Homo sapiens: one gene and its partner. The protein of the gene in region 2 interacts with the protein of the main gene of each other region in a pairwise test. Each region holds a gene or a part of one and is shown on either strand. Other genes may lie near its edges.

Region 1 (8,140 bases), on a different chromosome or scaffold from region 2:
ACGTAAAAGTTGGGTGGCTGTGACCAGAGGCGCATCTGAGGCAGAGGGCAGTGTCTGAAGGCAGAGAGAGACACAGCCTGGCGGGGGCCTCAGCTGGGAGCAGGGAAGCAAGATTTGCAGGGCTCTTGGGGGCCCGAGGAAGCCGTGCAGAGGGTCCCTGGCTCCTGGCCCAGCTGTGGTCCCAAGTCCTGCCCTGTCTCCTGAGGCTGTTCCTCCCCTAGAGCTGCCAGCCAAGATCCTGACTGCGGACAATCAGACGTACATGGCTGTCCAGGGCAGCACTGCCTACCTTCTGTGCAAGGCCTTCGGAGCGCCTGTGCCCAGTGTTCAGTGGTGAGTGTCTCGTCCTGGTAGTGGTGAGTGTCGTGTCCCAGTGGCCAGGGAGCCAGGGAGGGCAGGGAGCCCAGGCCAGCCAGTCAGAGCCAGGCCCGCCCTGCTCCCTCCAGGCTGGACGAGGATGGGACAACAGTGCTTCAGGACGAACGCTTCTTCCCCTATGCCAATGGGACCCTGGGCATTCGAGACCTCCAGGCCAATGACACCGGACGCTACTTCTGCCTGGCTGCCAATGACCAAAACAATGTTACCATCATGGCTAACCTGAAGGTTAAAGGTCAGGCAACCCTTGCCACATGGCTGGCAGTGCCTCTGGGAGGGAGGGTCTGGGCCTCTGGAGGACAACAGAGTGACTTCCCCACGCACGCATTACCCTCAGATGCAACTCAGATCACTCAGGGGCCCCGCAGCACAATCGAGAAGAAAGGTTCCAGGGTGACCTTCACGTGCCAGGCCTCCTTTGACCCCTCCTTGCAGCCCAGCATCACCTGGCGTGGGGACGGTCGAGACCTCCAGGAGCTTGGGGACAGTGACAAGTGAGGACAGTGACGGTGAAAGGGGGCAGAGTGGGAAAAGCTGGAAGTCCAGACCTCTTGGCCTCGTCCTTGCTTTGATGGGGAAGGCTCTGACAGGAGCGGGGGAAGGAGACAGGAGGGAGGGATGGGAGGGGAGAAGAGCCCAGATGGCAGGAAAGACAGACACGGCTCCTCCGCAGGTACTTCATAGAGGATGGGCGCCTGGTCATCCACAGCCTGGACTACAGCGACCAGGGCAACTACAGCTGCGTGGCCAGTACCGAACTGGATGTGGTGGAGAGTAGGGCACAGCTCTTGGTGGTGGGTAAGTCCTAGGGTGGAAGCCTCCACTCCAGAAGGCCGGGGCTCACATCCCTGGGCCCTTTCAAGCACCGACCCTCCCCACCCTCAGGGAGCCCTGGGCCGGTGCCACGGCTGGTGCTGTCCGACCTGCACCTGCTGACGCAGAGCCAGGTGCGCGTGTCCTGGAGTCCTGCAGAAGACCACAATGCCCCCATTGAGAGTAAGAGGCTTGAGCTCAGTGCCACCCCACCGTCACTTCTGCCAGCCCTGGCCCCTCCTGGGGTCCTCCCTCCTCCTGGAGCCTTCCTGGGGGGACACGGTTTGGGGGGACTCACGGTTCCTCATGGGAATCTGGAGATGCCAGTTGGCCTGGGTAATCAGGGACCCAGACTGTACCCAACCCCTCCACAGCCCTTCCCCCAAAGCCACATGCTGATCACTCCATTGTCGGTTCATTTCTTGGCAGAATATGACATTGAATTTGAGGACAAGGAAATGGCGCCTGAAAAATGGTACAGTCTGGGCAAGGTTCCAGGGAACCAGACCTCTACCACCCTCAAGCTGTCGCCCTATGTCCACTACACCTTTAGGGTTACTGCCATAAACAAATATGGCCCCGGGGAGCCCAGCCCGGTCTCTGAGACTGTGGTCACACCTGAGGCAGGTGAGTCAGGGTGGCACCCACTCCCATGCCACCTGGAAGGGGCTCCGGGCTGTGAAGGGAGGGCTTAGAGAGGTGCCATGCCCAAGTTCCTCTGCTTCCAAATTTCCAGGGGGAGCGCGAGGGGGCTGGACTCCCTTGGTGCCAGAATGAGCCATTTGTTCCTTGGCCCTCGGTCCTCGTGGCTCTCCAAAAGAGGCTGCAGCATTGATGTGTTAATACTTTCCTTTCCAGCCCCAGAGAAGAACCCTGTGGATGTGAAGGGGGAAGGAAATGAGACCACCAATATGGTCATCACGTGGAAGGTGAGAGTCCCTGGGCTGAGCTGCCTGGGGGACATGAGGCCATGACCTGGGTGTCTGTTGCTCCCCCTTGGCTATGCAAAGGAAGGGGCTGATGTCTGGGGATGCTGGTTTGTGCTGGGGGGCGGGCCAAAGAATGCTGGTGTTCTTGGCCAACCAACTCCTCTTCTGCTGGCCTCCTCCAGCCGCTCCGGTGGATGGACTGGAACGCCCCCCAGGTTCAGTACCGCGTGCAGTGGCGCCCTCAGGGGACACGAGGGCCCTGGCAGGAGCAGATTGTCAGCGACCCCTTCCTGGTGGTGTCCAACACGTCCACCTTCGTGCCCTATGAGATCAAAGTCCAGGCCGTCAACAGCCAGGGCAAGGGACCAGAGCCCCAGGTCACTATCGGCTACTCTGGAGAGGACTGTGAGTATCCGGCAGGGCCCCTCGCCCACGGTTGAGCTCGCCTGCTTCCACCCCAGCCCATGTCCACACCTCTCAGCATTGGTGTGCGCCTTTCCTAAGGATGAGGATATTCTCTTACATAACCAGAGCGACGTTATGAAATTCCCCACACTTCACATTTCTATAATTGGCAGCGGTATTCCAGTTATATCAGCCAATGCTGCTTCTTTCATTTCCTTGAATCTGGAACATGACCAGATGGTAACTTGAAGTACCCGGTCAAGTTTTTTTTCTGGTTTCTCCTTTTTTTCTTTTCTTTTTTCTTTTCTTTTCTTTTCTTTCTTTTTTTTTTTTTTTGAGATGGAGTCTTGCTCTGTCATCCAGGCTGGAGTGCAGTGGAGCGGTCTTGGCTCACTGCAACCTCTGCCTCCCGGGTTCAAGCGATTCTCCTGCCTCAGCCTCCTGATTAGCTGGGATTACAGGCACGCGCCACCACACCCAACTAATTTTCGTATTTAGTAGAGATGCGGTTGCACCATGTTGATCAGGTTGGTCTCGAACTCCAGACCTCAAATGTTCCACTCGCCTCTGTCTCCCAAAGTGTTGGGAATACGGGTGTGAACCATCACGCCCAGCCATGGTTTCTCCTTTGTATAAGCTACTATTTTCACCTTTGCAACTAATAAGCAGTCCAGGAAGAGATCTTGAGACCATGCAAACACACCTCTCCTCCTCAAACTGTACCTCATAAAATATCCGAATTCGTCTTCTCTGTGTGTAGGGGCTTGGGCCTGGCCTCAGGGCTGGGGTGAGAGCCTATGGCTCTATCCAAGTCACTGGTGGTTTCCAGACCCCCAGGCAATCCCTGAGCTGGAAGGCATTGAAATCCTCAACTCAAGTGCCGTGCTGGTCAAGTGGCGGCCGGTGGACCTGGCCCAGGTCAAGGGCCACCTCCGCGGATACAATGTAAGGGTTGAAGGCATGGGGGCCCAGGAGGGTGATCACTGAGGTAAAGCGACAGGATGGTGAGGGGGCTTTGCCACCTGCCAGCCGCTCTCCTGGAAGACTTGGGTTGAGAGGAGGGTCCCCATTAAGGGTGGTGGGGGTGTGCGCTGGGGGCCCTGCTGGGTGCCTTCTGCCCCTGCGAGGTCTCCTGTTCGCTTGTGCAGGTGACGTACTGGAGGGAGGGCAGTCAGAGGAAGCACAGCAAGAGACATATCCACAAAGACCATGTGGTGGTGCCCGCCAACACCACCAGTGTCATCCTCAGTGGCTTGCGGCCCTATAGCTCCTACCACCTGGAGGTGCAGGCCTTTAACGGGCGAGGATCGGGGCCCGCCAGCGAGTTCACCTTCAGCACCCCAGAGGGAGGTGAGTCCTGCACCCCACGCCTCATCCCCTGCCCTCCTCCCCAGACCTGGGCGAGGACCTACCTGCCACTCGGTTCTGTGCCCTGCAGTGCCTGGCCACCCCGAGGCGTTGCACCTGGAGTGCCAGTCGAACACCAGCCTGCTGCTGCGCTGGCAGCCCCCACTCAGCCACAACGGCGTGCTCACCGGCTACGTGCTCTCCTACCACCCCCGTGCGTGCGCCGCCCCAGCAGGGAAGGGAGGTGGAGGGGCCACGGGGAGGGGGCAGAGCTGCAGCCACAGCCAACCCCTGTCTGTCCCCACAGTGGATGAGGGGGGCAAGGGGCAACTGTCCTTCAACCTTCGGGACCCCGAACTTCGGACACACAACCTGACCGATCTCAGCCCCCACCTGCGGTACCGCTTCCAGCTTCAGGCCACCACCAAAGAGGGCCCTGGTGAAGCCATCGTACGGGAAGGAGGCACTATGGCCTTGTCTGGTAAGCTGGAGGAATGACCTGCCAACAGGGAGGCCCCGGCCAGCCGGGTCCAGGAGGGAGGGCCTTAGACTTCCTGGCAGCTGCCACACTCTCCTCGTTCCCCTGCATCCCCCCAGGGATCTCAGATTTTGGCAACATCTCAGCCACAGCGGGTGAAAACTACAGTGTCGTCTCCTGGGTCCCCAAGGAGGGCCAGTGCAACTTCAGGTTCCATATCTTGTTCAAAGCCTTGGGAGGTAAGCGTGAAAGGGGGCCTTGGGGCGTGGTGGGGAAGGGGGCTCTGGGCCAGAGGGGTTGCCTGGCACTCCGACTCACCCCTGCTGCCACCCTCTCTCCCTGGCAGAAGAGAAGGGTGGGGCTTCCCTTTCGCCACAGTATGTCAGCTACAACCAGAGCTCCTACACGCAGTGGGACCTGCAGCCTGACACTGACTACGAGATCCACTTGTTTAAGGAGAGGATGTTCCGGCACCAAATGGCTGTGAAGACCAATGGCACAGGTGAGGCGCCGGGGGCCCGCCATCACCTGCCAGGGAAGCATGGGGGCTGCACAATTCATGTCCTTCTGTCCCCTGAATGGCCACTACTGCCCAGGCTCCCTCCACGGCTCCTGTCTGCTTCTCCTCCCAGAATCTGGGTGTCCCCGAATCAGCCCCCTTTCATACCCTTTCCGCAGATGCCCTTTTCCCTGTCCCTGTCACTCCTTAGCCCCCCAGAGGGCCCCAACTTTAAGAGCATACTTCAGGGCCTCAGGTCGGGTTCTGGCTTGGGCGGCAGCACGGGGGGCTGGTGTCTCACCCTCAGGCCGCGTGAGGCTCCCTCCTGCTGGCTTCGCCACTGAGGGCTGGTTCATCGGCTTTGTGAGTGCCATCATCCTCCTGCTCCTCGTCCTGCTCATCCTCTGCTTCATCAAGCGCAGCAAGGGCGGCAAATACTCAGGTAGCCTCTGAGCCCCACGTGACGGGGGTGGAGCCGAGGGCAGAGAGGAGCACCTCGCCCCTTCCACCCTTCTGCAAGGCCTCCTGGATTCCCCGAGCTCCCCACAAGATGACAGGCGCATGGTGGGGGCAGGCAGGGGGATCATCCTCCCAGGCCGGGGTTGGGGCAACAGGCAAGTGGTGGCTGGACCGCAGGGGGTGAGCGGTTTCTTTCAAGGCCTCTTGCCTCTGGGCGCTGTTGAGACAGAGTGCTGGGGGTGCGGGGCGTAGAGGGGCCTGGAGCCCCGGGTCAGGCTGGGGCGGGAGAAGAAGCTGTCCCTCTCTGTGTCTCCAGTGAAGGATAAGGAGGACACCCAGGTGGACTCTGAGGCCCGACCGATGAAAGATGAGACCTTCGGCGAGTACAGGTGAGCCGGGGCAGGAGTGGGTGCTGGCACTCAGCTCCACCCTGGCCTTCACATCTCACCCCCTCTCTCTCTTCTCTGTGCTGCCGGGTGACTTCAGGTCCCTGGAGAGGTAAGGCAGGGGCGGTGGGGAGGGGCCAACAGCAAGGTCTCCCTATAGACAATGTGCGCCTGGTGTGCCATTGTCCCCTGGCTGCCGGGGCTCTGACAGGACTCTCACTTCCCAGCCCCCAGGCCCGGCAGCTCCTCATTTCAGGGAGAGGCCAACACGCCCCAGCCCCTCCTCTCCACACAGATACCTTCACTGCTCCCCTCTCCCCAAGGGAGGCCCCAGACAGCTTCCCAGACAGGAACCAGGCCCCATAATCCCCTGGCCGAGCGCACATTTTCTCCCTCACAGTCCCCAGGATCTGGGGAATGCCCAAAGATGACAGCTCCAGACCTGCCTGCCAGGGTGGCCAGAGCTGCTCTTTCTGAGCGCATTCTAAACAAATGGAAGGCAGGCGGGCGTCTGCCTCACCCCCAGCCAGGCTCCTGCAGGGGCTCGGCAGTGCTCTCACTCGCACCTGCCCTGTGCCTCTGCAGTGACAACGAGGAGAAGGCCTTTGGCAGCAGCCAGCCATCGCTCAACGGGGACATCAAGCCCCTGGGCAGTGACGACAGCCTGGCCGATTATGGGGGCAGCGTGGATGTTCAGTTCAACGAGGATGGTTCGTTCATTGGCCAGTACAGTGGCAAGAAGGAGAAGGAGGCGGCAGGGGGCAATGACAGCTCAGGGGCCACTTCCCCCATCAACCCTGCCGTGGCCCTAGAATAGTGGAGTCCAGGACAGGAGATGCTGTGCCCCTGGCCTTGGGATCCAGGCCCCTCCCTCTCCAGCAGGCCCATGGGAGGCTGGAGTTGGGGCAGAGGAGAACTTGCTGCCTCGGATCCCCTTCCTACCACCCGGTCCCCACTTTATTGCCAAAACCCAGCTGCACCCCTTCCTGGGCACACGCTGCTCTGCCCCAGCTTGGGCAGATCTCCCACATGCCAGGGGCCTTTGGGTGCTGTTTTGCCAGCCCATTTGGGCAGAGAGGCTGTGGTTTGGGGGAGAAGAAGTAGGGGTGGCCCGAAAGGGTCTCCGAAATGCTGTCTTTCTTGCTCCCTGACTGGGGGCAGACATGGTGGGGTCTCCTCAGGACCAGGGTTGGCACCTTCCCCCTCCCCCAGCCACTCCCCAGCCAGCCTGGCTGGGACTGGGAACAGAACTCGGTGTCCCCACCATCTGCTGTCTTTTCTTTGCCATCTCTGCTCCAACCGGGATGGGAGCCGGGCAAACTGGCCGCGGGGGCAGGGGAGGCCATCTGGAGAGCCCAGAGTCCCCCCACTCCCAGCATCGCACTCTGGCAGCACCGCCTCTTCCCGCCGCCCAGCCCACCCCATGGCCGGCTTTCAGGAGCTCCATACACACGCTGCCTTCGGTACCCACCACACAACATCCAAGTGGCCTCCGTCACTACCTGGCTGCGGGGCGGGCACACCTCCTCCCACTGCCCACTGGCCGGCCTCTTCCAGCCGCCCCCACCCCCCAGGACCCCTTAGCAGCCCTGCCCTCCCTATCGTCTGAACAGTTGTCTTCCTCAGCCTCCTCCCGCCCCCACCTTGGGAATGTAAATACACCGTGACTTTGAAAGTTTGTACCCCTGTCCTTCCCTTTACGCCACTAGTGTGTAGGCAGATGTCTGAGTCCCTAGGTGGTTTCTAGGATTGATAGCAATTAGCTTTGATGAACCCATCCCAGGAAAAATAAAAACAGACAAAAAAAAAGGAAAGATTGGTTCTCCCAGCACTGCTCAGCAGCCACAGCCTCCCTGTATGCCTGTGCTTGGTCTACTGATAAGCCCTCTACAAAAAAACAAAAGTATATATATATATGTACATAATATCAGAATTATAACAGGCAAATAAAACCTGAAAATCAAGAGCACCTTTTGTTATTTCGCGGAACACTTACTTCCCCTGTCCACGTCACACTGTGGGAGGTGCTAGGAGCGACCTGCCAGGCGGGCCCGGGTGTGGCCCAGCCACACAGTCCTGATGCTTCCCTGCCCCTTCCCAGAGCCCGGGCCTTCCACCCACCCTGCCAGGCCTGGCTGTTGGCTGCCTTGGGTGTTGCTGTCACATTGTTGCTGGGGCTCAGGATCCTCGCCTCTGCTGGCCTCCTGAGACCAAGCTTAGCTGTCACCATGGCCGGGCCCTTCACTGCTCAAACATGAGAGTAGAGTGTGGCCAGCGGCAGGAGCCTCTTCCCCTGTCTCAAGGGACACAGCTCCATGGCTCAGTGGAAGACTCATGATGTGCCCCGGTGGCATCGTTCTCTCTGGGGTACCCAGCCCTCTAAACCAGTACAAAGCACCTTATTTATTTATTTTTTGAGACAGGGTCTCACTCTGTCTCCCAGGCT
Region 2 (5,055 bases):
GCCTGCTGAGTGCATGGAGGCTGGTGGCCCGGCATGCTGACAGTTCTCCTGGCCCTGCAGATCCTGGCAGCCCTGGAGAAGGATGAGCAGGCGCGGCGGCAGCGGCTGCGGAGCAAGCTGGAGCAGGTGGTGGACACGATGGCCCTGAGCAGCTGAGCCCCAGCTGTGATCATCCAGCATGATGCAGCGTGAGGACAGCTGAGCAGGGACCGGGACAGCCCTCACCGCATGCGTGTGGAGTGTCCGGTGGTGCTCGGGCCGCCGCAGTGCAGCGACTGCCCGGCCCTCCCTCCCCTGCCTCACCCGGTCGGGTCCCGGCTCTTCCTGTGTGGAGGTGATGGTACCTGCCACACCACAGCTGCGCACACAGCTGCTTGCTCAGGGGCCGGGACAGCACTGGGTGCTCAGGCTGGCCAAGGACCTTCATTGCCTGGCAAGAGCTGCCCAGTGGCCTTCATGGGAGAAGGGCTGACCTCTGAGGGGCTGAGGGGTGAGGCCAGGGCCCTCCAGGGGGAGGGGTAGCCAGCTTGGGCTGTCCCCTTGAGACCAGGACAAGAGGCTGGGGGTGTCAGCATTCCCAGCTTTCCAAGCTGCCCCCAGGCGGCAGAGTCTGAGGGTCCCGGGGCCCGGTTGGCAGCTGGAGAAAGAGGCAAAAAGCCCGTAGCCGGGCAAGAGGAGCTCAAGTCGGTCTGGGCCCGTTGCCACCGACTCCCACCTCCAGCACCCATGCCCGCTGCACCGCTGCCATCCTCAGATTCACCGCGTGCTCTGCGCGGCCGAGGCCGGAGCACCACATCCACCTCGCCCCAGAGAGGCTCTGCTCCCTCCTATGGAGGGGCTGTGGGCCAGGCTGCTCAGACTCCTGGGTGGCTTCCAGACGGACCGGGCAGCCCCTCTCCGTCCTCAGGGCTGTGCCTCTGGGAGCCACTGGGCCAGGGGCCCCGGGTCGCAGAGAGCACGTTCCCGTTATTTATTCCCCTCCGCGTCCTACACAGGCTGCCCTGGCAGCTGTCTTCAAGGGTAGGCTGAGCTCCCCACCCTGGAGCCCCTGAGGGCGGCCCCTGAGCACTCCTCTCTCTCCACTCTCTCTGTCCCTGCCCCAGCGGCTTCCAGTGTGGCATCTCAGCAGTGTCCTGGCCCCTCCAGAGCAGTGGGACATCTGGGGACTGTTTTTGTGTTTAGGGGAAAAAATTCTGCTGCACTCTGCTTGGGCCTTGAGGTCTGTGGCAGGGCTCCTCTGGCCCGCAGTGGCCTGGATCTATCTGGGCCATGAGTGACGGGCAGTGACCAGAGGGACTGGAGGCCAGCGGTGTCCACCCTTGCCCTCAGCAAGAGAGAATGCATTCTTAAAAGAAAGCTGTACATGTATATATATGCATATATATATATGTGGCTCTAGCCTCAGGCTCCAGCCCCAGTGGGGTACTGTACAGTTAACTGAAGAAGAATTTTAAAGACGATTTGAACAAGAAAATGAAGGCAGTGGGAAAGCAATGCCAAATGGTTGTGGAGAAAGTGGCCGGAGCCTCCCTGGAGTGGAGCAGCCCTGAAGCCTGTGCCCCCCGACCTGCGGGCCGCTGTTTTGGTTTGACATGACAAGGAAAGGACTTCCTGCTGACCCTGAGAGCCTCTGGGGTGCCGCGGCACCACGGGGCATGCATGATTGTGCTAGCGTTTAGTCTGAGTTGATCTTTTTAAAACTGCAAGTGTTGAATACTAGAGGTTGTTAGACCCTTTTTTATGTTTTTTAATTAATCAGTCACTTGTAAAAGCAAACAAGCGGTCCATCCCCTTTTCAAGGTCACTTTTTTGATGGTACCGAAGATCCCATGGACATTAAGGGACAGCTAACTGTGGCCAGACTCAGCCCCATGTCCTTGGCCAGGCCCAAGGAGAGGACTCGGCCCCATGGGGTGTGCCAGTCTTGCAGTCCGCCCCAGCTGAGTAGCGTGAGCCAGATGACGCCACAGAGACCCGCCTCTTCCCTGAACGCGGGTCGGTGTGGAGTCAGTGACTGCTGACTCAGGGAGCTCCTTGGCCCCGTGGGCACTGTGCCAGGGCTGGGGCCTTCTGCTGCTGCCACACCCAGCTCAGGCCTGGGCCAGCCCCTGCCCCCAGCCCACTGAGGGGGTGGGCTTACTCCCTGGGCAGTCTTGGGGGCCAGAGCTGAGGCCAGTCCATATTACAGTGGCTGGGCTGTTTTTTTCAGTAGCCCCTAGCATTGGCTGGGATTCCTGTTCCTGGGTGCGCCTCCACCTCCCTTCTGATGTTTCCTGGCTATGGTGGGGTGGGAACCTCAGTTTCCCCCAAAGTCTTCCCTGGATGCTGGCTTCAGGTTGAAGTCCCTGGTTCTTCCAGTTCCTCACGGGTTAGGTAGGGGCTCCTGCATCACCTTCAGAATCCAGTTCCAACCCCCACTCTCCTTAGGCCTTGTGCTCTGCTCTGCCCTGCCAGGCTGCCCTTGTCCATGTGAGTAGCATGGGCGGGTGGTGGGGACGGCAGTGGTGATGAAGGGGGTGCACCACAGGCCTCATGAAGCAGTTCCCACATGGGCGTGTGGCTGGGGCGTGGCCACCACAGAGCACATGGCTGTGTCTAGGCGCAAGCACTTTAGCAGTATCTGTTTACATGCGCAAGGATCAAGCCGACTACCTGTGCTGTCTACTGGGACAGCAGTCTCCGAGCTACTCCGTACCTCCCTCTGCCAGGTCGTGGAGTTAGGCCCCAGTCCCTACTTGTCACTGGTTCCCACTGTGCTCCTAACTGTGCAGCACCTGGGAGCTCTGGCCTGGGGCTGGAGGCCCTGGTAGGAGCTGCAGTTGGAGGCCGTTCTGTGCCCAGCAGCGGTGAGCGGCTCCCATGGGCCCTGTGTCTGCAGGGAGCCAGGGCTGCGGCACATGTGCTGTGAAACTGGCACCCACCTGGCGTGCTGCTGCCGCCACTTGCTTCCTGCAGCACCTCCTACCCTGCTCCGTGTCCTCCCTCTCCCCGCGCCTGGCTCAGGAGTGCTGGAAAAGCTCACGCCTCGGCCTGGGAGCCTGGCCTCTTGATATACCTCGAGCTTCCCCTGTGCTCCCCAGCCCCAGGACCACTGGCCCCTTGGCCTGAGGGGCTGGGGGCCCCACGACCTGCAGCGTCGAGTCCGGGAGAGAGCCCGGAGCGGCGTGCCATCTCGGCTCGGCCTTGCTGAGAGCCTCCGCCCTGGCTTTCTCCCTGTCTGGATTCAGTGGCTCACGTTGGTGCTACACAGCTAGAATAGATATATTTAGAGAGAGAGATATTTTTAAGACAAAGCCCACAATTAGCTGTCCTTTAACACCGCAGAACCCCCTCCCAGAAGAAGAGCGATCCCTCGGACGGTCCGGGCGGGCACCCTCAGCCGGGCTCTTTGCAGAAGCAGCACCGCTGACTGTGGGCCCGGCCCTCAGATGTGTACATATACGGCTATTTCCTATTTTACTGTTCTTCAGATTTAGTACTTGTAAATAAACACACACATTAAGGAGAGATTAAACATTTTTGCTAAAAGCTCTTGGCTCCAGGTTTTCCTTGCTGGGAAGCAGGGGCGGCCGCAGGAGTGCAGCCACATCCCAAACACGGAAGCATATCTCCCTGGGAGACTCAGCCACACCCAGGACAGATGGCCACACTCTGTGAGTTGGGTGCGCTCAGCCCAGGTGACACATTGGAGCCCTTGGCGGAGACTAAAACACCAGTGCCTGACCCCCACTGGAGCCTTGGAGCTTCAGGGGTCTGAGCGGTGGTCACTTTTAGATGCTTCCCAGGCGATTCTCCCGTGACCCCTAGCTCAGAGCAGTGGCTTCCAGCCCATGCCGTGAGGCAGGAATTCCTGGGTGCCTTGTTAACTAAAATCAGATTCTGACCCCGAGGGGCCCATGAGCGACAGCCTGGGGGAGCTGAGGCTGCAGTCCTGGGCCCCCTGCCTTCAGTAGCCAAGGCTGGAATTGTGTTTCCCAGACTCGCAGCCAAGGAACCGGGTTTGAGAAATGTTGGTCTTTCCAGCAGAGACAGGCTATGCTGCTTCATCTCATGAAAATGTGTACAGATACTAATGATGGAGGTGTGGATGCAGCTTCTGCCAGTGCATGGCTTTGGTCAGTGGCCCCGTCCCTGGGCTCATTTCATCCATGGCTCAACAGGGGTGGCTGCTCCTGCCGCAGAGGGTGGGTGCAGGGTCAGGTGTGACACATCCCCAAGGGCCCTGGGCACCTGCTCTGCAGCTGCGCCTCCAGGCAGACCCCAACCTGGACCGTCTGAGCACTGCCTGTAAGTGAACTCACTGGGACTTCCCGGCAACCCTGGGAGGTTAGGGGCAGCTGCACCTGCAGCTGAGGAATTGAGGCACACAGAGGTTGCACAATGTGTCCCAGCCACATGGTGGTAAGCAGCAGCCCGCCCAAACGTAGGCCCTTGGGACCCCAGGCCCTCCCCACCGCCCCCAAGCTCCCACCTGTCTCCCACCAGCCTCTCCATGAACTCGTTCCCAGGGCTGACAGTGGCCCATAAGTCATCAACAATACCTCCCACTCTCAAACAGGCGCATCTTGACAGTGGGGCTGCAAGCACAAGCTCTGTGCCAGGCTCAGTAACTCAAGAGAAATCAGTGTAATCACCACGAAATTGTGTCGGAAACAAATTTAGCAAATGTGGTCCCGTTTAGGGTGTGACGCAGCCTGTTCTCATGGCTCAGTCCCCTTCAGCTTTTTTCCGGCACAATCAGCCCATCCTCAATTACCCTCATTAGGCCTCCAAGGGCTCCAGCCCATCAGCCTGGAAGCTGAGCCATCTCTGAGCCGCAATCAGCGCTCGCTGTGCGAGTGATCGGGCGCAATTACACAGCAGCGGTGATGGGGCCTTCTGATTGCTGCTTGAGTGCGCTGGCTCCTGAGGGTATTAAACCATCAGCTATTAATGCTGGTGGCTCTGAGCAGGGCACCTGGATGGGCTTGCTGCAGAGCAAGGGCGAGGCCAGCCTGTGGGCCTGGGTGGGATGGAGGCACCCTCCACCCAGAGCAGATCCAGAGGTGACTTCAG

Evidence for each region. Proteins that work in one complex are often made in the same cells at the same time.
Region 1: the proteins of PLXNA1 (region 2) and L1CAM interact in a two-hybrid assay, tested with the Homo sapiens proteins (one study listed by BioGRID).

The regions. Positions count from the first base shown.
Region 1 is NC_000023.11:153,861,034-153,869,173, reverse strand, and holds the end of L1CAM (neural cell adhesion molecule L1 isoform 1 precursor), read left to right. Parts: intron 1-221; coding exon 222-333; intron 334-446; coding exon 447-613; intron 614-715; coding exon 716-872; intron 873-1,051; coding exon 1,052-1,176; intron 1,177-1,263; coding exon 1,264-1,374; intron 1,375-1,620; coding exon 1,621-1,818; intron 1,819-2,049; coding exon 2,050-2,120; intron 2,121-2,302; coding exon 2,303-2,525; intron 2,526-3,354; coding exon 3,355-3,470; intron 3,471-3,673; coding exon 3,674-3,875; intron 3,876-3,963; coding exon 3,964-4,086; intron 4,087-4,179; coding exon 4,180-4,353; intron 4,354-4,469; coding exon 4,470-4,589; intron 4,590-4,696; coding exon 4,697-4,852; intron 4,853-5,156; coding exon 5,157-5,291; intron 5,292-5,624; coding exon 5,625-5,697; intron 5,698-5,794; coding exon 5,795-5,806; intron 5,807-6,279; coding exon 6,280-6,511; 3' UTR 6,512-7,658; downstream 7,659-8,140. UniProt on the Homo sapiens protein: Neural cell adhesion molecule involved in the dynamics of cell adhesion and in the generation of transmembrane signals at tyrosine kinase receptors.
Region 2 is NC_000003.12:127,033,862-127,038,916, forward strand, and holds the end of PLXNA1 (plexin-A1 precursor), read left to right. Parts: intron 1-60; coding exon 61-156; 3' UTR 157-3,528; downstream 3,529-5,055. UniProt on the Homo sapiens protein: Coreceptor for SEMA3A, SEMA3C, SEMA3F and SEMA6D. Necessary for signaling by class 3 semaphorins and subsequent remodeling of the cytoskeleton. Plays a role in axon guidance, invasive growth and cell migration.